Linked DNA regions of Homo sapiens. The protein of the gene in region 1 purifies or fractionates together with the protein of each later gene. This does not show direct contact. Each region holds a gene or a part of one and is shown on either strand. Other genes may lie near its edges. The genes, in order: SYNC, GOLGA3, CCDC102A, GAN, GOLGA5, TJAP1 and KIF15.

The links.
Region 2: the proteins of SYNC (region 1) and GOLGA3 purify together in Homo sapiens (affinity purification with mass spectrometry; 2 studies listed by BioGRID and IntAct, with this or other methods). This does not show direct contact.
Region 3: the proteins of SYNC (region 1) and CCDC102A purify together in Homo sapiens (affinity purification with mass spectrometry; 2 studies listed by BioGRID and IntAct, with this or other methods). This does not show direct contact.
Region 4: the proteins of SYNC (region 1) and GAN purify together in Homo sapiens (affinity purification with mass spectrometry; 2 studies listed by BioGRID and IntAct, with this or other methods). This does not show direct contact.
Region 5: the proteins of SYNC (region 1) and GOLGA5 purify together in Homo sapiens (affinity purification with mass spectrometry; 2 studies listed by BioGRID and IntAct, with this or other methods). This does not show direct contact.
Region 6: the proteins of SYNC (region 1) and TJAP1 purify together in Homo sapiens (affinity purification with mass spectrometry; 2 studies listed by BioGRID and IntAct, with this or other methods). This does not show direct contact.
Region 7: the proteins of SYNC (region 1) and KIF15 purify together in Homo sapiens (affinity purification with mass spectrometry; 2 studies listed by BioGRID and IntAct, with this or other methods). This does not show direct contact.

The regions. Positions count from the first base shown.
Region 1 is NC_000001.11:32,696,271-32,699,770, reverse strand, and holds part of SYNC (syncoilin), read left to right. Parts: intron 1-2,341; exon of another isoform or gene 2,342-2,435; intron 2,436-3,500.
Region 2 is NC_000012.12:132,783,870-132,787,369, reverse strand, and holds part of GOLGA3 (golgin subfamily A member 3), read left to right. Parts: intron 1-582; coding exon 583-677; intron 678-814; coding exon 815-1,031; intron 1,032-3,062; coding exon 3,063-3,206; coding exon of another isoform or gene 3,207-3,344; exon of another isoform or gene 3,345-3,500. UniProt on the Homo sapiens protein: Golgi auto-antigen; probably involved in maintaining Golgi structure.
Region 3 is NC_000016.10:57,523,072-57,526,571, forward strand, and holds part of CCDC102A (coiled-coil domain-containing protein 102A), read right to left. Parts: intron 3,057-3,500; coding exon 2,830-3,056; intron 1-2,829.
Region 4 is NC_000016.10:81,356,462-81,359,961, reverse strand, and holds part of GAN (gigaxonin), read right to left. Parts: intron 3,178-3,500; coding exon 2,960-3,177; intron 2,153-2,959; coding exon 2,031-2,152; intron 1-2,030. UniProt on the Homo sapiens protein: Probable cytoskeletal component that directly or indirectly plays an important role in neurofilament architecture.
Region 5 is NC_000014.9:92,797,305-92,800,804, forward strand, and holds part of GOLGA5 (golgin subfamily A member 5), read left to right. Parts: intron 1-103; 5' UTR 104-133; coding exon 134-677; intron 678-3,500. UniProt on the Homo sapiens protein: Involved in maintaining Golgi structure. Stimulates the formation of Golgi stacks and ribbons. Involved in intra-Golgi retrograde transport.
Region 6 is NC_000006.12:43,498,070-43,501,569, forward strand, and holds part of TJAP1 (tight junction-associated protein 1), read left to right. Parts: intron 1-853; exon of another isoform or gene 854-908; 5' UTR 909-932; coding exon 933-1,031; exon of another isoform or gene 1,032-1,067; intron 1,068-2,674; coding exon 2,675-2,703; intron 2,704-3,456; coding exon 3,457-3,500. UniProt on the Homo sapiens protein: Plays a role in regulating the structure of the Golgi apparatus.
Region 7 is NC_000003.12:44,792,794-44,796,293, reverse strand, and holds part of KIF15 (kinesin-like protein KIF15), read right to left. Parts: intron 2,078-3,500; coding exon 1,868-2,077; intron 1-1,867. UniProt on the Homo sapiens protein: Plus-end directed kinesin-like motor enzyme involved in mitotic spindle assembly.

The DNA.
Region 1 (3,500 bases):
CAGAGCGAGACTCTGGCTCAAAAAAAGAAAAAAAAAAAAAAAGGTATGTTTGGGCCACATCTTTAAGGACCTTGAAACCATGCGTAGCAATTTGGGTATTTATTGGTGAAGTGGAGCAATAGTTCACTCTGTGTTGTAGCAAGTTAACTGTGGTGGTGTAGAGAATAGATTGAGGTGAGGAGAGGAGGAAGTCCTTTTAGAAGACCAGGACAAAAGTGCCAGTGAGACAGGATGTCTTGGAGTAGGGCCCTGATAGTGGGATGCAGAAGAGGGGGATGGAGACTGTAGTCTTTCTAAGATAGAAAGGTCACTTTTTGGCCAGGCGCAGTGACTCGTGCCTGTAATCCCAGCACTTTGGGAGGCCATGATCCCTGGTGGATCACGAGGTCAGGAGATTGAGACCATCCTGGCCAACATGGTGAAACCCTGTCTCTACTAAATACACAAAAATTAGCCAGGCGTGGTGGCAGGCACCTATAGTCTCAGCTACTCAGGAGGCTGAGGCAGGAGAATCACTTGAACCCAGGAGGAGGAGGTTGCAGTGAGCTGAGACCACGCCACTGCACTCCAGCCTGGGCGACAGAGTGAAGCTCCATCTCAAAAAAAAAAAAAAAAAAGAAAAGAAAAGTCACTTCTCAGTGAACTGGCTATACAGGGGAGGGAAAGAGCTGTCTGAAGATTTCTTGCCTGTGGCCGGATGTGGTGGCTCATGCCTGTAATCCCAGCACTTTGGGAGGTCTAGGTAGGAGGATCGCTTGAGCTCAGGAGTTTGAGACCAGCCTGAGCAACATAGTGAGACTTCATCTCTACAAAAAGTTAAAAAATTAGCGGGTGTGGCGCTACGTGCCTGTAGTCCTGGCTACCCGGGAGGCTGAGGCAGGAGGATGGCTTGAGCCGGGGAGGTTGAGGCTGCAGTGAGCTATGATCATGCCACAGTACTCAGGCCTGGGCGACAGAGGGAGACTCCATCTCAAAAAAAAAAAAAAAGACAAAAACAAAAAAACAGAAACAGGAAAGACCAAAGCTATTTGCATTTGAGGGGCAAAGCAGCAAGAGAACACTCCCCAGTGGGAACTGACTGAGCTGGCAGGCAATAGGCAGCTGGGTCAAAGAGCTCAGATGTCAGAATGATGGAATCTGACTTCAAGAGCGTTTGACAGGATAGAAGGGTGGGCCAGTTCTAACAAGATGAACTTTTACAGAAACAAGAAATGTTGCTTACAAGCACTTGGTATGAAAAACTTTTTTTTTTGATACAGAGTTTGGTTTTGTTGCCCAGGCTGGAGTGCGGTGGCGCAATCTGGGCTCACTGCAAGCTCCGCTTCCCAGGTTCACACCATTCTCCTGCCTCAGCCTCCCGAGTAGCTGGGACTACAGGTGCCCGCCACCACGCCTGGCTAATTTTTTTGTACTTTTAGTAGAGACGGGGTTTCACTGTGTTAGCCAGTATGGTCTCGATCTCCTGACCTCATGATCCGCCTGCCTCAGCCTCCCAAAGTGCTGGGATTACAGGCGTGAGCCACCACGCCCGGCATTTTTTTTTTTTTTTTTTTTTTGAGATGGAGTCCCGGTCTGTCGCCCAGGCTGTGGTGTGATCTCGGCTCACTGCAACCTCTGCCTCCCAGGTTCAAGCGATTCTTGTGCCTTAGCCTCCCGAGTAGCTGAGATTACAGGCATGCACCATCATGCCCTGCTAAGTTTTGTATTTTTAGTAGAGACGGGGTTTCACCATGTTGGCTAGGCTGATCTCGAACTCCTGAGCTCAGGTGATCCACCCGTCTTGGCCTCCCAAAGTGCTGGCATTACAGGCGTGAGCCATCTCGCCCAGCCCTGGGGCACTGTTTTTGATACCCATCCCAATTTCTAGCTCTTGGGGAACTTAAGAATAAAGGCAAATTAAAAAAAAATCCTCAAAAGAGTGACAGTCTGAAAGCTGTCATTTGTGTCACAAGGATATGACACAAATGAAGAGGGCACTGGAAACCTGGACATGTATGGAATAACAAAGATAAGCTGGGTTTTTTTTGTTTTTTTTTTTGACAGGGTCTCTGTTGCCCAGGCTGGGGTGCAGAGTGGTGCAGTCATGGCTCAGCACAGCCTCGACCTCCCAGGCTCAGGTGATTCTCCCACCACAGCCTCCCAAGTATCTGGGACTACAGGTGTACACCATCATGCCCAGCTAATTTTTTGTATTTTTTTGTAGAGATGGGGTTTCGCCATGTTGCCCACGCTGGCCTTAAACTCCTGGACTCAAGAGGTCTTGGCCTCCCAAAGTGCTGGATTACAGACATGAGCCACCGCACTTGACCACGGTTATCTTTTTTTTTTTTTTGAGACGGAGTTTCGCTGTTGTTGCCCAGGCTGGAGTGCAATGGTGCAATCTCGTCTCACTGCAACCTCTGCCTCTTTGAAGTTCAAGAGATTCTCCTGCCTCAGTGAGTATCTGGGATTACAGGCATGCACCACCACGCCCGGCTAATTTTGTATTTTTAGTAGAGATGGGGTTTCTCCATGTTGGTCAGGCTGGTCTTGAACTCCCGACCTCAGGTGATCCGCCTGATTCGGCCTCCCAAAGTGCTGAGATTACAGGTGTGAGCCACCACGCCTGGCCGACCATGGTTCTCTTTAAGTGTTTAGATAACTTACACAGAAAAGAAGGTAGAAATATCTGATCCTAGAAGGAAGAATCAGGTAAATCCAGTGGCTAAAAGTTACCAGGAATTGCTGGGCATGGTGGCTCAATGCCTGTAATCCCAACACTTTGGGAGGCTGAAGAGGGCGGATCACTTGAGGTCAGGAGTTTGAGACCAGCCTGGCCAACATGGTAAAACCCCATCTCTACTAAAAATACAAAAATCAGCTGAGTGTGATGGCACGTGTCTGTAGTCCCACCTACCTGGGAGGTGGAGGCTGAAATGGCACCACTGCACTCCAGCCTGGGTGACAGAGCAAGACTCCATCTCAAAGAAAAAAAAAAGTTATAAGGAAGGTTTTACCTCAACATTATAATTTTATTAGAACTGGGCTGGGCGCAGTGGCTCATGCCTATAATCCCAGCACTTTGGGAGGCCGAGGCGGGCAGATCATGAGGTCAGGAGTTTGAGAACAGCCTGACTAACATGGTGAAACCCCATCTCCACTAAAAATACAAAAATTAGCCGGGCGTGGTGGTATGTGTGCCTATAATCCCAGCTGCTCAGGAGGCTGAGGCAGGAGAATCACTTGAACCTGGGAGGTGGAGGCTGCAGTGAGCCAAGATCGCACCACTGCATTCCAGCCTGGCAACAGAGCAAGACTCCGTCTCAAAAAAAAAAGGCGTGGTGGTGCTACTTGGGAGGCTGAGGCAAGAGAATCGCATGAACTGGGGGACAGAGGTTGCAGTGAGCCGACATCACGCTATTGCACTCCAGCCTCGGCAATACAGCGGGACTCCATCTCAAAAAAAAAAAATTATTATAATTGTGGAACAAACAGTGGTGCCTCAGGTATGTCGAGTCCTT
Region 2 (3,500 bases), on another chromosome or scaffold:
TTGGAGGAGAGGTCCTGGGTCCACAGGCTTTCCTATGAACCAGTCATGTCCTGTTGTGCCTCTGATGCTCTGGACAGTGTTTGGAAACGCTTGTTGGTCTCAGTAATGAGTGGTTTGTGGCCGGGTGCAGTGGCTCACACCTGTAATCCCAGCACTTTGGGAGGCCGAGGCAGGTGGATCACGAGGTCAGGAGTTCAAGACTAGCCTGACCAATATGGTGAAACCCTGTCTCTACTAAAAATACAAAAATTAGCTGGGCATGGTGGCGGGCACCTGTAGTCCCAGCCACTCGGGAGGCTGAGGCAGGAGAATCACTTGAACCTGGGAGGCGGAGGTTGCAGTGAGCTGAGATCACGCCCCTGCACTCCAGCCTGGGTGACAGAGTGAGACTCCATCTCAATAAAAAAAAAAAAGAGTGGTTTGTAAGAAGGCAGACGTCTCTCTCAGGATTTTTCTCAAGGCCCAAGTCCTCCAGGGCGAGCCTGAGCAGTGCCTTTGGTGGGGGTGATGGGCTGGAGCCAGGAAGGGGAGACAGGCTGGGGGTGGCAGTGCCGCTCCTCACGCCCTCCTTCCCTTCCACAGTCGTTGCAGTTCGATAAGGAGCAGATGGTCGCGGTCACAGAGGCCAATGAGGCGCTGAAGAAACAAATCGAAGAGTTGCAGCAAGAGGCCCGGAAGTAAGTCTGCATGTGCCCGGGGGAGGTGCGGGGGCCAGGTGGGAGGTGCGGGGGCCGGGGGGGAGGCGAACCAGAATGCCAGACGGTCACATCGGGATAATTCAGCTTCCTCCTGTGTCTCCCTCATGACACCCCAGGGCCATCACGGAACAGAAGCAGAAGATGAGGCGGCTGGGCTCAGACTTGACCAGCGCCCAGAAGGAGATGAAGACCAAACATAAGGCCTACGAGAACGCCGTGGGCATCCTCAGCCGCCGCCTGCAGGAGGCCCTCGCGGCCAAGGAGGCTGCGGACGCGGAGCTGGGCCAGCTCCGAGCCCAGGGTGGCAGCAGTGACAGCAGCCTGGCTCTACATGTAGGTAACACCGTGCCATCCCCGGCCAGGGTCACCAGCCCCTCAGTGCAGGGAAGGGCTCTCCATCAGCAGTTGTCCCCTAAAGCCTAGCGGGGCCGAGCTCGCGTGGGAGGTGGCAACTCTCTAAACTCCCGCTCATCTTCCAGGTTACCAGGAACCCACAGTGACTGAGCATTGCCTCGCGTCTCCCTCATGAACCCCACATGGCCTGTGGCCTGTGGCGTTCACCTGATTTTCCTCAAGAAATCTCCTTGGCTCAGAGAAGTTCAGCTGCTCCCTTGGGGCAGAGGGAGGGCCTGCCCTGGTCCGCTCGCGTTCCAGCTGCCTCTGCGCCTCCTCGCATCTCAGGAGGAAAAGCAGCCTCCGCACTCACTGAGAAGCAGGAGTGAGGGCATGGGGTCAGCGATTGACAGGGTTCAGGGAGCGTTTAGAGGTAGCCATGCTGCGGTGGCCCAGAACAAGCGGGTGCCCTTTCTGGAGGGCTCTGAGCAGAGCCTTCCGTGGAGGCCGTGGCCCTCCGTGCTCTGTCACCTTTCGTGGTAGGCATAACATTCTACCTGAGTGAGTTCATCCGCATTTTATTTATTATTCTCCAATTCACGTCCTTGCACTGACAACTTAGTATTTCTTCTTATATGTGGTTTGTTTCTATCTCCTGTCCACTTAAGAATTTATGGGTAGGAAGAGACTGTATCATAACGTGGGGTTTTCTTGTCAAATAAACTCGGCCGGGCACGGTGGCTCACACCTATAATCCCAGCGCTTTGGGAGGCTGAGGCAGGAGGATCGCTTGAGCACAGGAGTTTGAGACCAGCCTGGGCAACATAATTAGACCCTGTATTTACAAATAATACAAAAATAAAACCCAGGCATGGTAGCACGTGCCTGTGGACACAGATGCTTGAGACACTGAGGTGGGAGGATCGCCTCAGCCTGGGAGGTGAGGCTGAAACTGCAGTGAGTCATGATTTTGCTGCTGCACTCCAGCCCGGGCGATAGAGACTCTGTGTCTGAAATTCAATAAATAAATCAAGTGCTTCCTCTCACCTGGTTGCTTTGTAAAATGTTGGGGAGATTGATTCAGTTGCCATTTTCTTTGGGCTCACTAAGGGCTGGGGTGGGGAGGTCGCAAAGGCCGGGCAGAGCTGGCCCCTCGCCACGCTGTTGCAGCTGAGGAATAGCACAGCTGCGAGCCGATGTCTTGTGTCCGTCCGGGCTTCACCCCTCGCAAGTGGTGACTTTTGGCAAATTTCTCACCTTTTTGATCCTCAGCAAAATGAGGCCAAATTGAGGTGAATGAGAACCTTCTCATGTAAGGGTTAAGTTAGGTGGTACTGGAACATGCTTGGCAAGGGCCTGGTACCATCGAGGCAGCAAGTGGGCGGGGTGTGAGAGCACACCTGTGCCTGCATGTATCCGTGCATGTGTGAGGTGTGAGCATGTGTGTGTGCAGCGTGTGGAGTGTTTGTGTGCATGGTGTGTGGGATGTGAGCATATGTGTGCATGCAGTGTGGGGTGTATGTGTGCATGCAGTGTGAGGTGTGAGCACATGTGCATGTGTGGTGTGGGGTGTGAACACGTGGGGTGTGAGCATGTGCGTGTGGGGTGTGAGCACGTGTGTGTGTGGTGTGTGGGATGTGAACATGTGCACGTGGTGTGTGTTACATGAGTGTGTGTATGTGATGTGTGGTGCGTGAGCATGTGTGTGGTATTTATTACAACTGGTGCTGCTTGCTTGCCACAGATGGTGATTTATAGCCATTATCTGCAGGTCAGATTTTCTTCTGTATTTTTGAAGCATTGAACTGAAGAGATGATTTTGTTTGTCCCAACTATCCCCGTGTGTCATCGTGTGCATGCTGTGGTCGGTTAATTCAACTTCTTTAACAAAAAGGAAGGTTGTGAGACTGTGTCAGACAGCTGGTGTCTGGTGTGTGCAGCCACACAGCCTCATGCCTGCCGGCACCACAGGAAGTGAGGGGGGTCAGGGCCTGTCCCATGACCAAGCGCCCGTTCCATCTTGGCCCTTAGGAAAGGATCCAGGCCCTGGAGGCGGAGCTGCAGGCTGTCAGTCATAGCAAGACGCTGCTGGAAAAGGAACTGCAGGAGGTCATAGCGCTGACCAGCCAGGAGCTGGAGGAGTCCCGGGAGAAGGTGCTGGAGCTGGAGGACGAGGTGAGGCCTGGCCATCTGCTGTGGCGGCAGCGTGGGGCAGGTCACGTGAGCCCTGGACATGCCGCCACGCGTGAGACCCGAAGAACAAAACTTCACCGTGTGCCCAGCGTTGCTACTTTTGGTGTTGCCACCTTCTGACCGTCGGCCTCTGGCTCTGTGGTGGGGCAGGCCCTGATTCCAGCCCTCTGGGGAGGATCACTGTACAGCCTCTTTGGTGGAATGGTTACAGAATTCATAGTGGAACCCTTCTCAGTTCAAATGCTTTGGTTGCAAATAAGAAACCCAACTTCGCCA
Region 3 (3,500 bases), on another chromosome or scaffold:
CATGAGAATTGCTTGAACCAGGGAGACAAGAGATTGTAGTGAGCTGAGATAGAGCCGCTGTACCCCAGCCTGGGCAACAGAGCGAGACTCTGTCTCCAAAAAAAAAAAAAGTTACTTTCACTTCTACTTTATATTTCAGTTAGTGCACTAGGTTGATTTTTTTGCTTGTTTGGCTTAAACAGTCTAAATTTATTCTCTCATATTTCTAGAGGCTAGAAGTCCAAGATCAAGCTGTTGGCAGGACTGGTTCTCTGAGGGCTGCGAGAAAGAATCCGTTCCATGCCTCTCTCCCAGCTTCTGGCAGTTTGCTGGCCATCTTTGGTATTCCTTGGCCAAAGATGCAACAATGTCCGCAAAAGCATCACCCTGACCTCTGCCTACATCTTCACAAAGGCATTATAGTGATTTTTTTTTTTTTTTGAGACAGCGTCTCTCTCTGTCACCTAGGCTGGAGGGTACTGGTGCATTCATACAATCACAGCTCCCTCAGCCTCGACCTCCTGGGCTCAAGCGATCCTCCCGCCTCAGCCTTCCAAGTAGCTGGGACTACAGTGGCACAGCCCCGTTCCCAGCTAATTTTTTTTTTTTTGTAGGCCAGGCACAATGGCTCATGCCTGTAATCCCAGCACTATGGGAAGCTGAGGTTGGTGGATTACCTGAGGTCAGGAGTTCGAGACCAGCCTGGCCAACATGGTAAAACTCCGTCTCTATGAAAAATACAAAAATTAGCCGGGTCTGGTGGCTAATTTTTTAGCCACCCTCTGGGTTGTCCCCTCTGGGAACCCCATGTTGGAGGCGTGGAGTGTTCCACTCTCAGAGAGAGAGGCCAGTGTGGTGTGGGGTCATGAAGGGCAGCGTGCTGGAAGGTGATGCTGAGCTCAGCCATTGGTGAGCACCTACTCTGCCAGGGCCAGGCATCATGCTTGTAACCTACAGTGCCTTATTCAAGATCAAGGCAGGGTGGGGGTTATGGGAGGATGTAGGGATCCCACACAGTGACGATGGCAAGAGAGAACCCTCTCTTCGGGTCACTGGACAGTGTTTTCCAGTGTTTCTATCTGCAGAAACATGTGTTCAGACCAAGCCTTGCAGGGAACATAGTCTACAAAACAGACAGGAGCAGGGTGGTCTTTGACAGCCCTTCGAGAAGAACAAGGTGGGCCAAGGAGTGGAGTGGCCAGTGCTGGGGCCGCCACCTCCTGGAGCCATTTTCAGATGAGCCTGAGGTGCAGCAGGAGAGAGGTACTTGTCCGGGGATGCTCAGTGCTCTGGAACCCCGACCACCTCCCCACAATGTGAGCTGGGCACTTGCACTTGGATAGGGAATGCAGTTCCAGGAGAACTACAAAGAACATGCGCCAGAGGCATGGTGGCACATGCCTGTAATCCCAGCTACTCAGGAGGCTGAGGCAGGAGAAACACTTGAACATGGGAGGCAGAGGTTACAGTGAGTCGAGACTGTGCTACTGTACTCCAGCCTGGCTGACAGAGTGAGGCTCTGTCTAAAAAAAATATATATATATATAGAGAGAGAGACAGGGTCTTGCTGTATGGCCCAGGTTGGCCACAAGCAATCCTCTTGCCTCGGAATCCCAAAGTGCTATGATTACAGACATGAGTCACTGCACCTGGCCATTATATTGATTTTTTAAAAAGGAGTGTGTAGATAGGTTATGCTATTGTCGTATTTAATTTCTGGACAGAAAAACTGCAGAATATTCATTATCATCAAGCTCGTGCCCTCTAAACTGCTCTGATCAAGGTCACTGGTGACCTCCACATTCTAAATCCAATGGTCCAGGGCTCAGCCCTGTTCTTACTGATCACTCTGTCCTCCGGGAAACGGTTTCTTGTGGTTCCCCTTCCCAGCCCGGCTCCCTTCTCTTGTCTCCTCTGCTGTTTCCCTTTCCTCTAACTGACCTCTAAACTTGGCACTTCAGGGCTGGATCCTCTGACCAGTTCCCTATCCACACTCATTCCTTGGCCCTTGTCCACGCTCATCGTTTTATTTATTTATTTATTTATTTATTTATTTATTTATTGAGACAGAGTCTTGCTCTGTCGCCCAGGATGGAGTGCAGTGGCACAATTCCGGCTCACTGCAACCTCCACCTCCCGGCTTCAAGCAATTTTCCTGCCTCAGCCTCCTGAGTAGCTGGGATTGCAGGTGTCTGCCACCACGCCTAGCTAATTTTTGCATTTTTGGTAGAGATGGGGTTTCAATTCACCATGTTGGTCAGGCAGGTCTCCAACTCCTGACCTCAAGTGATCTGCCCACCTCGGCCTCCCAAAGTGCTGGGATTACAGGCGTGAGCCACTGCGCCTGGCCCAGCTCATGGCTTTCAATATCATCTCTTCACTGGTGACTCTTGCATTTTTACCTCCAGCCCAGGCCTGTCTCATGAACTCCAGACTCATTCACATCCCCAGCTGCCTCCCTGCCATCTCAAACTCACACGTCCAAAACCAAGGTCCCAGCTGCAACCTTCCAACTTCCCTGTCTCCATTCCCTGCTTTTACCCTGCCCACAGCCCTCTCCCCCAACTAGAAAGTACGTTTCAGGAAGGCAGGGGCTTCTGTCTTATTTACGGCTGTATCCTCAGGGCAGAGCACAGTGCCTGGCCCAGAACAGGTGCCTGGTAACGTATTATTTGAATGAATAAATAAAAACTTGCACTGAGTTCTTGGGTGGAACACCACTGCTCTACAGTTCCAAGATACAGTCTAAACACTACCTGTCATCTTCGTGAGTCTAATGTTCTGTGATTCTGAGGGCGTTGTAGCACGGCCTGGCCCTGGCCCTGCCCCCTCCCGCCTCCCACGACTCACTCTCGCTCCTTGAGCAGCACCTTCTGGGACTCATCCAGCCGTAGCCGCAGGGCGGTCAACTTGGAGGCCTCCTCCTCCGTGGCAGCTGTGTCCTCCCAGGGTAGCCGGCTGCGCTCCTGGCGGCCTGAGCTGCCCCGCGGGCCCCCAGCCCCCAGGCTGCGCGCCTCCCAGCAGTCCTCAGACTCCTCTGGCATGCTCTTCAGCAGGCTCTCCACCAGCTCCAGTTCCTGCGGGGACCAAGGTGGAGGCTGGACCAGTGGCCGCCAAGCCAGGCCCTGGGTCTGAGATCAGCTTGATGGGTAACCTTGGGCAAGTCACACAGTGTCTCTGGGCCTCAGTTTCCTCTTCTGCTGCCTGCCTCTCCATCTCTGGAGAAGGAAGACACACCCTGCTCTGGGCCTCCCCTTTCACCTCCTGGAGCTGCAGAGTGTCAGCCACCATGGTTCCCTGTATCCTAGAAGATTCCCCAGGAGAGGTGGTGAGCTCCCTGTCACTGGAAGTATGCAAACCTACGGCGGGGCACCGATGGGAACAAATGTTGAAGCAGGAATTCCTATAATGGCTTAAGCCTAGATTCCTTCCAAAGGAATTCTAGCTCTAAGATCCTGTTTTTTCAGGGGCAAATAGTAAGGCATGGGGAGACTGGTGACACAGGGAAGCAGTGCCTGTGA
Region 4 (3,500 bases), on another chromosome or scaffold:
TTTTGGTTTCTGTGGTTTTATCACCCATGGTCAACTGCAGTCCGAAAATAGGTGAGTTCAGTAAAGTAAGATATTTTGAGAGAGACCACATTCACATAACTATTACAGTATATTGTTATCGTCGTTTTATTATCAGTTATTGTCGTTAATCTTTTACTGTGCTGAACTTAAACTTTATCATGGGTATGGATGTATAGTAAAAACACACAGTATGTACAGGGTTCAGCACTATCTGTGGTCTCAGACAACCACTCGGGGGTCTTGGAATGCATCCCTCATTGATAAGGGGGATCTACTGTACATATTTATTAGTGATAATGCATTTTAAAACTGTAAGAGTATGGAAAATGGAAAATGAAGAAAAACTCTCCTGAAGAGAACACAGGTACTGACTAACTTTGGACTTTGCTAACTTAATACAGGCTGTAATTTCTAAGGTAATCTTCCTAAAGGACTATTAACAAGAATGTAAGTCCCAAACTGGTAGAGAAGAAAAATTGAATGACAAAAAAACAGTCAAAATCAATTTTTAAAAAGGCAAAAAAAAAAAAAAAAACAATGCAGCCTGGACAAACGGAAGGACCTCCTCAATCACTCACTTCTGTTTCCATCAATTCCACTGTACACAGTCGCTCCTTCCATTGCTGGGTTTCTGAAACACCAATCCCTCTAGCAAACTTTCAAATATTAGTCATATAGGAGCCTTTGTGACAGACGTGTATGTGTGAAAATTAGGAATATGTGTATATATTTTGGGGGAAATGTAAGGGAGCTAATTCTGAGAAGATGCAACAGGGAAACTAGACCTACATCCTGCAGGCTATACTACTCTGTCCAGCTCTTCACTACTGACAATAACTAATAATTTTGGGACTCATAAAATGACTCCACTTCTATACTATGGTAGAGCCTTGGCCATTTGTATGATGCACTGTGGTACAGTATAGCTTTAAAAATATTATAGCCTGGGCAACATTGCAAGATCCCATCTCTAAAAAGAAAAATAAAATAAAAAATAAAATTTTAAAGATAATGTTGCTGGGCAAGCAAACACAATTAAATAAGGACTGCAGGAGGGCTGCTGACCACAATTAGGATGACATGAGATGACACTTATCAGGTGGACAAGGGAGCAGGACCACGGCGAAAAGACAGGCAGCCAGCAAAGGCAATGCCTCAATGGCTATCTTTTCTATCAGCTCCTTAAGGGAGAGCTTTGGATAAAGTAGAGCAGTTTTCAAACTTGTAAAGGTCAAGTAAAGCATTTTCCATACTAAATAACTTTAAGCCATTGCCTATATAAGTAGCATTTCCTAAAGTCTCATAACTTCTCTTTTTTTTTCTTTTTTTTTTGAGACAGGGTCTCACTCTGTCACCCAGGCTGGAATGCAGTGGTGTGATCTTGGCTCACAGCAGTCTCGATCTCCTGGGCTCAAGAGATTCTCCCACCTCAGCCTCCCAAGTAGCTGGGACCACAAGTGCATGCCACTATGCCTGGCTAATTTTTTTGATTTTTAGTAAAGACAGTTTCTCTCCTACATTGTCCAGGCTGGTCTTGAACTCCTAGGCTCCTCTCACTTTAGCCTCCTAAACTGCGGGGATTACAGGTGTGAGCCACCACACTCGGCCTTATATAACATATTTTATATAATTACATATTGTAATTCTAAGCTGCATGAATTTCAAAGATGGGACTACCATGGTGCAAAGAAACGCTGTGTTCCAGGTGTGGCCCTACAGCTACTTAGTGGTAAGCATCACTGAAGTTTGCTCTCCTGACATTAAGTCATCAAGTAACTGCTTCTCCAGTAGTTCTTAAAAGCAGCTATGTGCTGAAGATACAGAGATAATAAGGACTGACAGAAAATACGGTTTTCCTAACCACGGTCTCAGAAGCTAGAACTACACTAAAAATGTCATGTAGAGATAATAAAATTGTATCTTTAAAAGGCTCTGAGTCATTCTGTAAAACCTTGAGATTACACATTACTTGATCTGCTGTTTAAGGAAAATTTGCCACAGAACGGTACCTGCTGAGAGAACTCCATGGTTAATTCTCGGCATGCTTAAAGGGGCCAGTTCGATCCAAAGCTGCCTGTTAGGGTCATAGAGAGGGCACATGCATCGCATCGCTGCTGTGGGTTTCCGTGAACTAAGGAAGTAAATAAGTGATCAGTAGTTAATGTGCTTCATACAGTTCTTTTTATAAGTAGCCATCACTAGTTTTAGTTTACTAAAGAATATTTAAAACATTTTTTAAAAACCCTTGTGGAAGTCAGTGTGACGATTCCTCAGGGATCTAGAACTAGGAATGCCATTTGACCCAGCCATCCCATTACTGGGTATATACCCAAAGGACTATAAATCATGCTGCTATAAAGACACATGCACACGTATGTTTATTGCGGCACTATTCACAATAGCAAAGACTTGGAACCAACCCAAATGTCCAACATTGATAGACTGGATTAAGAAAATGTAGCACATATACACCATGGAATACTATGCAGCCATAAAAAAGGATGAGTTCATGTCCTTTGTAGGGACATGGATGAAATTGGAAATCATCATTCTCAGTAAACTATCGCAAGAACAAAAAACCAAACACCGCATATTCTCACTCATAGGTGGGAACTGAACAATGAGAACACATGGACACAGGAAGGGGAACATCACACTCTGGGGACTGTTGCGGGGTGGAGGGAGAGGGGAGGGATAGCTTTAGGAAATATATCTAATGCTAAATGATGAGTTAATGGGTGCAGCACACCAGCATGGCACATGTATACATATGTAACTAACCTGCACATTGTGCACATGTACCCTAAAACTTAAAGTATAAAAAAAAAAATCAAATGTAATTATGTTTTAGATACTGAAAAGCATTATGAATTCTTGTTTACATGGAACTACCTCTTCCCATACACCACTTTTCAAACAAGTCCCACCTCATACTTACACTCTCTCTTCTCCACCAACAGTCACGATGCACTCAGAGTAGCCCCGGGGTTTGAAGTTGGCCAGCATCGCCTCCCCTTGCTGCGGCTGGCTGAGCGGTATATTGCTACACTCTTTGACAATTTCTCGTACTAATGGTTCATTCAGCATCTGTTCCCGTAAATAACTGGAGTCCAACCCTGAAACCCACAGAGCTGACATAACATCCTTCATGTGGACCTGCAGAAGAGGGAAGAAAGATGGGGCGAAAACAATGGAAAATGCAACACATCATTTTTAGAATCTACATTTTCCACCTCATGGAAAACAAACTGTTAACACTCAGGTTATTACCAGGCAAGTGAGACACACTCGTGCTGCTTGAATATCTTCTCCTGGCCCTAACTGTCTACTTCCCAGAGTCTTGATAAGTAAAAGTTTAATTTTTAAAAATCATCAGTTTATTTGAGGTATCACTGTAAAAGTTTCAAGCAGCTTCCTTTACACCTTAAAGGATTCCCATTTCAATAGGAAAAGACAGGAAAAGAACCAGCTATAATTTG
Region 5 (3,500 bases), on another chromosome or scaffold:
GTTAGGATTTCAACCCAGGATTGCCTGACTCCAGAGTCTGGTCTTAACCATTTATCATACTCTGCCACTATGCCACACTGATCATTTTATGTCCTTTTTACAGGTTTGCCAATAGGATTATCCTGCTGCCATCATGTCTTGGTTTGTTGATCTTGCTGGAAAGGCAGAAGATCTTTTAAACCGAGTTGATCAAGGGGCTGCAACAGCTCTCAGTAGGAAAGACAATGCCAGCAACATATATAGCAAAAATACTGACTATACTGAACTTCACCAGCAAAATACAGATTTGATATATCAGACTGGACCTAAATCTACGTATATTTCATCAGCAGCTGATAACATTCGAAATCAAAAAGCCACCATCTTAGCTGGCACTGCAAATGTGAAAGTAGGATCTCGGACACCAGTAGAGGCCTCTCATCCTGTTGAAAATGCATCTGTTCCTAGGCCTTCATCCCATTTTGTGCGAAGAAAAAAGTCAGAACCTGATGATGAGCTGCTGTTTGATTTTCTTAATAGTTCACAGAAGGAGCCTACCGGGAGGGTGGAAATCAGAAAGGAAAAAGGCAAGACACCTGTCTTTCAGAGCTCTCAGACATCAAGTGTCAGTTCTGTGAACCCCAGTGTAACCACCATCAAAACCATTGAAGAAAATTCTTTTGGGAGCCAAACCCACGGTAGTTAATCAGTCCTCTTATTTCTTTTAGAGTTAAGCAAATTGAATGTGTCATCATATGATCCGATGGTGTTTCTCATCTACTGTTATGGAATCTGTCTCCACTGGTGTAAGGGCAGACTCTCTGCAAATGTGTGGTGTAAACAAGGGAGACATCATTGACTACTATTAGTCAATAGACAGTTGTAGCAGGGACTTCATGTTGTCTGGAGGGCAACTTCACCCACTCAGCATCTAACAAAGTATTTCAAATTTGTTTCTCTAAGACATTTTAAGATTAAAAAAAGAAAATTTTGAAATCTGAAAGAAAACATGTCAGTTTGGATCGGGGACTATCCCAGTTGATATCTTTTTGTTACTAGGATTATAAAAATGACAGGAGGCTGTACTTCACGTATTTTCTGGGTTGTGTTTTTTGTGTGTTTTTCCCCCCACATCCTCCACAAATAAAGCTGAGAGACTGAACTTTGATCCAAGTTGAAGAGTTGAAGGCATTGACCTAGTAGTGAAGCAAGAGCTTAGAACTCTTGTTTTCAATTGTTTAATTCCCTCTGAGATTACCTCTACAAGTACACCTTCTTTCTTGTGAAATGAGATTAACGTGGTAAATGTGGCTAATTCAAGTACCTACTAACTGTTTTAAAATAGCTATAGGCTGGGCGTGGTGGCTTACACCTGTAATCCGAGCACTTTGGAACGCTGAGGCAGGCAGAGCACTCGTGCCCAGGAGTTTGAGACCAGCCTAAACAACATAGCAAAACTTTGTCTCTACAAAAAATACAAAAATTAGCCAGGCACAGTGGTGCATGCCTGTAGTCTCAGCTACTTGGGAGGCTGAGGCGGGAGAATTGATTGAGCTCAGGAGGTCGAGGTTGCAGTGAGCCGAGATTGTACCACTACACTCCAGCCTGGGCCGTAGAATGAGACGCTGTCTCCAAAGATAAAAATAGAAAAAAGGCAAAAAACTTGATAGTAGGTTCTTGCAGGGATTCTTTTGTTGTTTTGAGACAGGGTCTTGCTCTATCGCCGAGGCTTAAGTGCCGTGATGCTATCACAGCTCGCACTACCTTTGACCTCCCCAGGCTCAAGCGATCCTCCTGCCTCAGCCTCCTGAGTAGCTGGAACTATAGGTGCACACCACTGTGCCCAGCTAATTTTAAAAAATTATTTTTAATAGAAACAGTGTCTCACTGTGTTGCTCTGGCTGGTCTTGAGCTCAAGTGATCCTCCTACTTTGACCTCCCACAGCATTGGGATTATGGGCATGATCTACCGTGGCCTGGCCATAGGGATTTTTTTTTTTTTTTCTTTTTTGAGACGGAGTCTCACTCTGTCACCCAGGCTGGAGTGCAGTGGCCTGATCTTGGCTCACTGCAAGCTCCACCTCCTGGGTTCATGCCATTCTCCTGCCTCAGCCTCCCAAGTAGCTGGGACTACAGGCGCCTGCCATCACGCCTGGCTAATTTTTTTTTTTTTTTTGTATTTTTAGTAGAGACAGGGTTTCACTGTTAGCCAGGAGGCTCTTGATCTCCTGACCTTGTGATCCGCCCGCCTCGGCCTCCCAAAGTGCTGGGATTACAGGCGTGAGCCACTGTGCCTGGCCTTTTTTAATGTTTTTATTTATTTATTTATTTATTTTTTTGTGAGACGGAGTCTCGCTTTGTCGCCCAGGCTGGAGTGCAGTGACGCGATCTTAGCTCACTGCAACCTCCACCTCCTGGGTTCAAGCGATTCTCCATTTCAGCCTCCCGAGTAGCTGGGACTATAGGTGTGCACCACCACCCTTGGCTAATTTTTGTATTTTTTGGTAGAGATAGGGTTTCATCACGTTGGCCAGGCTGGTCTTGAACTCCGGACCTCAAGTCATCTGCCCACCTTGGCCTCCCAAAGTGCTGAGATTACAGGCGTGAGCCACCACACCTGGCCAGGGATTCTTTATAGAGTTGATTATTGATGGGAGATTGTCATGTTCTTGGATGTTATAGCTTCTTTCATTGTCTTGGCTGTTAGTGAATAAAATCTTTCTTGTATTTTCAAGACAAAAACTTGTATAGAAGAAGACGTTTTGGGTTGTGAAAATAGGATCAGGCAGTAGCAGTTGATTAATATGTTCACATATTCCAAAATTTCTTCTCAGCTATCTTTCAATTAATTACACAAAGAACCTACTAGGTGCAAGGATATGGAAGTGTCCAGTGGGTGAGCTAGACATGTAAACAGATAATTTACTTGTGGTCTAGTAAATGTAGCAATTAAGTATGGTCAGAGTGTTGTGGAAGTATGAAGGAGGAAGTAACTAATTGCCTAGGGTATTCAGAAAGGATTCACAGAGGGTCTGTATTTTTAGCTGGGTCTTAAAGAATGAACAGGAGTTTGCCAGGTAAAAAGTTAGAGACAGCATTCCATGCAGAGAGAACAGACTCTAAGAGGCTAGTAGAGTAGAAAACATTGTAACAAAGTTGGAAACACTGAGTGAGTTGGAGGGTGATGAAGAAAATGTAGCTAGCAAACAAAGTTGGGACCTGTTTGTGAAGGCCCTTGTGTCATACTGTTTATGCAATTAAACCCATTACTTCTATAATCATTGTTAAAGATTGATTCCTGAACAACAGGCTTTAGAATCGCTTGTGTGTTGTTAATTTAAAAATGAATTATTGAGTGCCTTCCCAGGCTTCCTGAATCGTTATTTTCTGGGGATGGAGCCAGGGCATCTGATTTTGTTGTTGTTGTTCTGTGGGTGGTTCTTAGCCAATAAAAGTTGAAAGTGGCTGCCATAGCCAGTGTGATGCTAGTAGAGATCTTTAAGTCAAGAGTTGACATAGCT
Region 6 (3,500 bases), on another chromosome or scaffold:
CTGGTGAAAAGAGTGGTGGAGGCCACAGGGGTTTGGTCATCAGTGGCTGAGGCCAGAGAGCTCTCTTGGGCCTTGAGACTCCCACTGGGGATCCTGGATTGTATCCCCAAACTCACATTTTTGGTTATGATTTTTTTTAAACTAACATTTATTCAACATTTCCTAAGTGTTTTACATCATCTTCCCAACAACCCTATGAATTGGTGCTATTCTTAACTGGAATCAGTAGCTCACACCTATAATCCCAGCACTTTGGAAGGCCAAGACAGAGGGATTGCTTGAGCTTGAGAGTTTGAGCCTGGGCAACAAAGTGAGACGCTGTGTACAAAAAATAGCCAGGTGCAGTGGCACATGCTTGTGGTCCGAGCTACACAGAAGGCTGAGGCAGGAGGATTACTTGAGCCCAGGAGGTCGAGGCTGCAGTGAGCCAAGATTGCGCCACTACACTCCAGCCTGGGCAACAGAGCAAGACCCTGTCTCAAAAAAGAAAAGAAAAAAAGAAATTGATGCTGTTTTATCGCTAATTTAGAGTTGAGAAAACTAATGCATAGAGAGCAGTTTTACCTTCTGAGGCCTTCAGAGCCCACAAAGGAGAGTGGTAAGGAGGGTGGTGGGCTGCTTTGAAGCTCCCTGTCCCACTCTTAGAACCTAGGTGTTCAGGCCCTAGGCCCTGCCTTTCCCACCCATCTGTTCCCCGTTGGACCCATGCCCCACCCTCCAGCACTCCTTTGACCTATGGGGACTGACACACCTAAGTCCTGCCCCTCTAGTGACTCCAGTAATGGCCCAGGCCTGTCAGCCTATGTGGTGGCCTCAACATATGTCCCCTTTCACCATCTTTGTTTTTTCTCAGTCCAGAGTCCTTCTGGCCACATCTCTGAGCCTGCCTCCTTCTTGCTTCTCAGCAGGCGGAGGAGCCGTCACCTCCCAGAATGACTAGTGCCGCCCCTGCTAAGAAACCCTACCGTAAGGCACCACCAGAGCATCGGGAGCTGCGTTTGGAAATTCCTGGATCCCGGCTTGAGCAGGAGGTCAGCAAGACTGGTATCACAGCCTGACCGGCAGAGGCAAGGCCCCTGAGGCTGGGTGTCTGGCTGACTTCTCCTGCCTGAGCTTCTGGTCCTGAGTTGGGGTGAGAGTGGGCCTTGCTGTTGCAGGCCTGAGGTCTCCTAGCCGCAGTAGTGCAGGTGGGGGTAATGTAGGCTCAAGGGGGACTGTCTGTGAGTATATGTCCACATGTCAGGGAACCCCTGAGTCTTTGTAGCTTAGCAGAAATGATCCCATATGATATTCTCCCTGCAAGAGGCAGCCCAGTAGACTGAGGGGTCCTAATCTGCTAGTGGTTGGGACTCTGGTCCTCCGTAGTGGAGTAGAGCCATTCAACCTGTGGCCCCTTTGGGGCATATCAGGAGGCAGTGCTACAGCCACTTCCCACCAGCACAGCTGCTCTTCATTGTCCCCAGGAAGTCCAGCCCTTCCTCCAGCTTTGCTTTGTTTGGCTAACATTTGTTGAATATGTACTCCCTGCCAGGAACTGTTAGGTCCGGACTCTGCTCTTCGGGGCCTATAGTCAGCTGCAAAACATTGGCTCTCCTGCCCCATTAACTTCACTCACAGGCAGAAACGAGGGCCACAGTGGTTTACTGCCCTTGCAGCCATATCTCCATCTGGTCACAGTGCGTGGAGCACATTTAAAGAACCTGAGACGCAGCATGTGCTGAGCATCAGGCATACTGTAGCCTGCTTTGGTCAGATTCAAGGTAGAAAAGCCATGACTTGCTCATTTCAGTTCAGGGAACATTAAATTAAGATGCCAGCTATTATGCTAGGTGCTACCCAGCGAGCATTACCTCAGTTTTATAAATGAGGGAACTAAGGCTCGGTGAGGTGAAGGCTGTATAATCAGTATGCAGTAGAATAGGGTGAAATCCAGTTGTCAGAGTCAATGGACAAAGGAAGCCACCTACCTCCATTTTCTGCCAGAGGCTGCTCTTCTGAAGCAGTCAGTTCCACATAGAATAGGCCCCTTGATGTTTCCCTCTCGCGATAGCAGGGGCCTACTCTGCTTTGTGGTTGGCTGAACTTGACTCTTGAGCCATGACTGCCATAGGGGTTTGGGGAAGATGGGGCAGGAGGTTAAAAGACAGACAAGGCACTTCCTCCCCTTAGTCAGGATTAGTCCTCTTCTCCCATGCACTTGTTCTTCCTGAGCCTCTGCAAGAGCCTGATTCTGCCTTTGTCTTCATCTCAAGGCTGAGGGCTTTGTCAGAGCTCAGAACTCGTGTGTATAGTTCAGCCTGACTTTTCTGGAAGGTCTCTGCCATACCTCTGTGGATACAGGACCCACCAGGAGCCGAGTGAACAGCTGAGAGGCTGTCTGCCCCTGGGGAGAGGTAGCTTGGGTGCCAGGACTTATTTGAAAATGGCTTTAGGATTGGATTAAGGGTGAAGGTTGGAAGAGGTTCTTGAATCTTCTGGTTGGCATGGGAGAGGGTAGTCGAGGCTTGTCCCAGCATTACTGAATTGCTTCCATCCGTAGAGAGCCCTGCAGCCCTCTTCTGCTATAAGAGTCTTTGGGCTTCACACCTGAGCCTTCTTGTGGCTATTTGGAGGGTGAGCCAGCCGGGGGTCCAGTGGTCCAGAGCTGAGCCTCAAGCCTCTCTTTTTTGCCTAGGAACCCCTGACTGATGCAGAAAGGATGAAGTGAGTATCTGCTACCTGAGATACTGCCCTGCCTCAACTCTGTCCCTCTTAGCTCCAGGCTAGACTGTTGGTACAGTTGGACTTTCCCTTGGATTAGGTAGAAATAAAGGTTGGGATGGGTTGTTTTAGGGACTCTGGGAGGAGTGTTGATGTTGTGGATATTTTTTCTGGAAAATGGGATTTTATTGTTCCATGGGCTTCAAGAGAGCGTAGAATCAGGAGGCGAATGGCTCTGAGGGCCCTGCTCTTCTTGCTAAGGAGCCCTTCCCCAGCTCCTGGCTCCTGTACCAGCTGCCACCCTTACAGCCCTTTAGCCACATGAGGCCTCTGGAGAGGAGGGCAGTGCTGGGCTGGATTTCCAAGAGATGAATAATGGAGAAGCCTGATTGTGCAGTGGGGAAACTGGAGCTGGGGGCTTGGTGGCCAGCTGACATGGGCTGTAACCAGAGACAGGCTGGGAGCCATATCCCTACCCCCAATTCTTTATTTCTATTCTCCGATAGTGAAGGGAGGCTGGACTGTCCCCTACCATCCCCTCTTCCTCCCCTGACCCTCCAACCCAGGCTGTGTTCCCAGGGCCAGCAGGCCTATGAAATATGCTGCCTTAGACTCAGACTAAGACTCCAGGAGTTTCCCTGTCCTGTTTGCCTGTCCTCATGTCATCCCTTCCTTCCTGAGCCCACTCTGGAGCTCCAGGGCATGCCCTTCTATCTCTCATACCCCTCTGCCCTTGATCCCACAACACCCTGCCAGGCTCTTACAGGAGGAGAATGAAGAGCTTCGCCGGCGCCTGGCCT
Region 7 (3,500 bases), on another chromosome or scaffold:
TCGACCTCCTGGGTTCGAGGGATCCTCCCACCTCAGCCTCCCAGGTGCTAGGATTACAGGCATAAGCCACCATGCTCAACCCATATGCTATATTTATTAAGCCTCATATCTCAATAGAAATATGAGCTTTAGGCTGGGCGTGGTGGCTAACGCCTGTAATCCCAACACTTTGGGAGGCCAAGGAGGGTGGATCACCTGAGGTCAGGAGTTCAAGACCAGCCTGGCCAAAATGGTGAAACCCCATCTCTATTAAAAATACAAAATATTAGCTGGGTGTGGTGGTGGGCGCCTGTAATCTCAGCTACTTGGGAGGCTGAGGCAGAAGAACTGCTTGAACCAGAGAGGCAGAGGTTGCAGTAAGCCGAGATCATGCCACTGCACTCCAGCTGGGTGACAGAGTGAGACTGTCTCAAAACAAAAAAATATGAGCTTCAGATTGCCTGAAACTGCCTCAAATGTAGGTCAGGCGACTCAAATCCTCACTTTTAATGAAAAAAGTAGATCTCTTCCCTCATCCTTTCCAATTCCTCTCCCCTTGCCCATGTATATTCTAAACTATAGACTCTACAAATATTTTATTGACAATTCGTATTACTATATATATATATATATAAACACATATTGACAATACATATTACATAGAACCTCTGGTCCCACTGTTGATACCTTAGCCTAGGACTAGATACTTAACCCTTCATACCTGAAATATTAAACAGCGTAAGTGGTCATCTTTTTCTGTGGGCTCTCCCTTCTAAAATCTTAACAGCAGTGGGTCAGATGACTAAGTTTCTATAAAACAGGCTTTCTTCATGAATCACTTAGTTGCTAAGAAATGTTAAGTGTTTCCCAGTATTCGCAGAGTTGATACAAACTTGGCCTGGCACTCCTGGTCCTTGATAATCCGGGCCTGCTTGCCTCTCTAACCAACCCATCCATTGAGCCATGCTGAAATGCCAAATGCTACACTCATTCTGCATCCACAATAACCCTTGAGATGCCCCCCTGCCAGGCATGCATTTCCTGTTTCTCTCTCCCTACCGAAATCCTTCACAAGTCAAGAACTACTTCTTTTCCACATGTTCCACAAGCAGTCCATATTGCACCCTTCTTCCTCTGACCCCTGTTGTCTCTTGTACCCTTATCCCCTCTGGTATGAATTAAAACATTTTTGCTACTGACAGACTTGCCCTATCCCATCTATGTTCACTGTTCCACAAAAGAAATCTCTGTTCCTTTTCAATAGGAACAATTTCTTATTTCTTTGCCACCCTCAAAACACTTAGCTTGGTATGGTCATATATCAGTTAACAACACGGATACATTTTTTTTTCTGAGACAGAGTCTCTCTCTGTCACCCAGACTGGCGTGCAGTGGCGCGATCTCAGCTCACTGCAACCTCGGCCTCCCAGGTTCAAGTGATTCTCCTGCCTCAGTCTCCCAAGTAGCTGGGACTACAGGCGCGCATCACCACGCCCAGCTGACTTTTGTATTTTTTTAGTAGAGACGGGATTTCACCACGTTGGCCAGGATGGTCTCGATCTCCTGACCTCGTGATCTACCTGCCTCAGCTTCCCAAAGTGCTGGGATTACAGGTGTGAGCCACCGCGCCCGGCTAACAGGGGTACATTTTAAGAAATGTGCTGTTAGGAAATTTGATTGTTTTGTGGGCATCATAGAATATACTTATGCAAACCGAGATGGTATAGCCTACAACATACCTAAGCCATGTGGTATAGCTATTATACTCTTAAGGGACCCCCATCATAAATGCAGTTCCTCATTGACTGAGACACTGTCATGCATCACGACTGTATTGACTGCTAGTAAGAACTCACACACAAGTTGAAGACCATAATTTCATTCTTACCTTCAATCTCATCCCTTCTGCATGGGTATCTTTTTGCCTTTCAGATCCTGCTAAATCCACCAGGTTGAGTAGGGAGGTCCGTATATTCACAATCTCATTACTTTTCTCCATTGACTCTATTGTAATTGTAAAGACGGCATGAGACCTAGACGATTCTCTGTTCATTGATGTTGATGCCACACGTCTATTCCTCCATCCTCCAGACAACACCTATGCAAAAGGAAAACATATTAAAAGAAATGAGAGGACCAGTTACAGTGGCTTATGCCTGTAATCCTAGCAGTTTGGGAGGCCATGTCTGGAGGATCACTTGTGGATAGGAATTCAAGACCAGCCTGACCTACATAGTGTGAGACCTCACCTCTACAAAAAATAATAATTTGCTATGTACAGTGGCAGGAACCTGTAGTCCTAGCTACTCGGGAGGCTGAGGTGGGAAGATCTCTTGAGCCCAGGAATTCAAGGCTGCAGTGAGCCATGATTGTGCCACTGCACTCCAGCCTGAGCAGCAGGGCAAGATCCTATCTTAAAAAAAAAAAAAAAAGGAAAAGAGAAAAAAAAAGGAACAAGAATAGGTACACTTAAAATGTAAAATAAGCACTTGAGAATCACTCATTTTATTATGAAAAATACTAACATACAGCTAATTATCTACTTTCATAGGGAAAAAGAAATATATTTACATAAAGCATATTTTCTATTTAGAACAGGGGTGAGGAGTATCTATTGCCTTCCATTGTTATCTAGCTTTATAAGATAAATTATATTATCCCAAGTTCCAAATGGTACACAACAGCCACCAAAATCAGTAGGAAATTTGTAAAGGGTGGTGAGAAAGATTACTGGTCCATTAAGGAATAAGCTGAAGTTATTTTCCTTTCCTTTGTGTTCCCTTTCCACATTACAGAAACAGAACAAACAGGAAATCAGAGCGCATAGGATCTAGAACTGGTTTTGCCACGCTTTATTTGTGTTAACCTAATGTAAATCACAAAACCTCTCTGAACCCATTTCTTTACCTAGAAAATGAGAATGTTGGACAGGAAAAATCTGTAAATTATCTTTAAGCCCAAAGTTTTGTAAGCTTTTGGTCTACAAAGTATTTTTTCCCTTCTATTCCCTATGGCAAGCAGGATACATGAAAGTTCAGAATGCAGGCTCTGGAATCAGATGCATATGAGTTCAAACCATGGCTCCACTATTTACTAGGCGAGGTCTGGGGCCAGCTGAACCTTTTCAAGCCTCAGCCTTCATATTTGTAAAATGGGAATATGGGTACCTATCCCATAGAACAGAACATATAAGTTTTAGGTGCATATGAATCATCTACAGATGTTGTTAAAATTCAGATTCAGATTCAGTGTGAGGTGGGGCCTGAGATTTTGCATTTCTAACAAGCTCTCAGGTGATGCTGATGTTCTGAGGACCACATTTTGGGTAGGAGGGTAACAGTATATATAGGGTAAAATGGGGAAATTAGTGTCTTTATCTCAAAGGGCATATTGAAAATTAAGTAAAATAATGTATACAAAAGAAGTTAGCACAGTGCTTGGCACCTTCACTCAATAAATCATAGCTGTTGGCAGGGCACGGTGGCTCACGCCTGTAATTCCAGCACTTTGGGAGGCCCAGG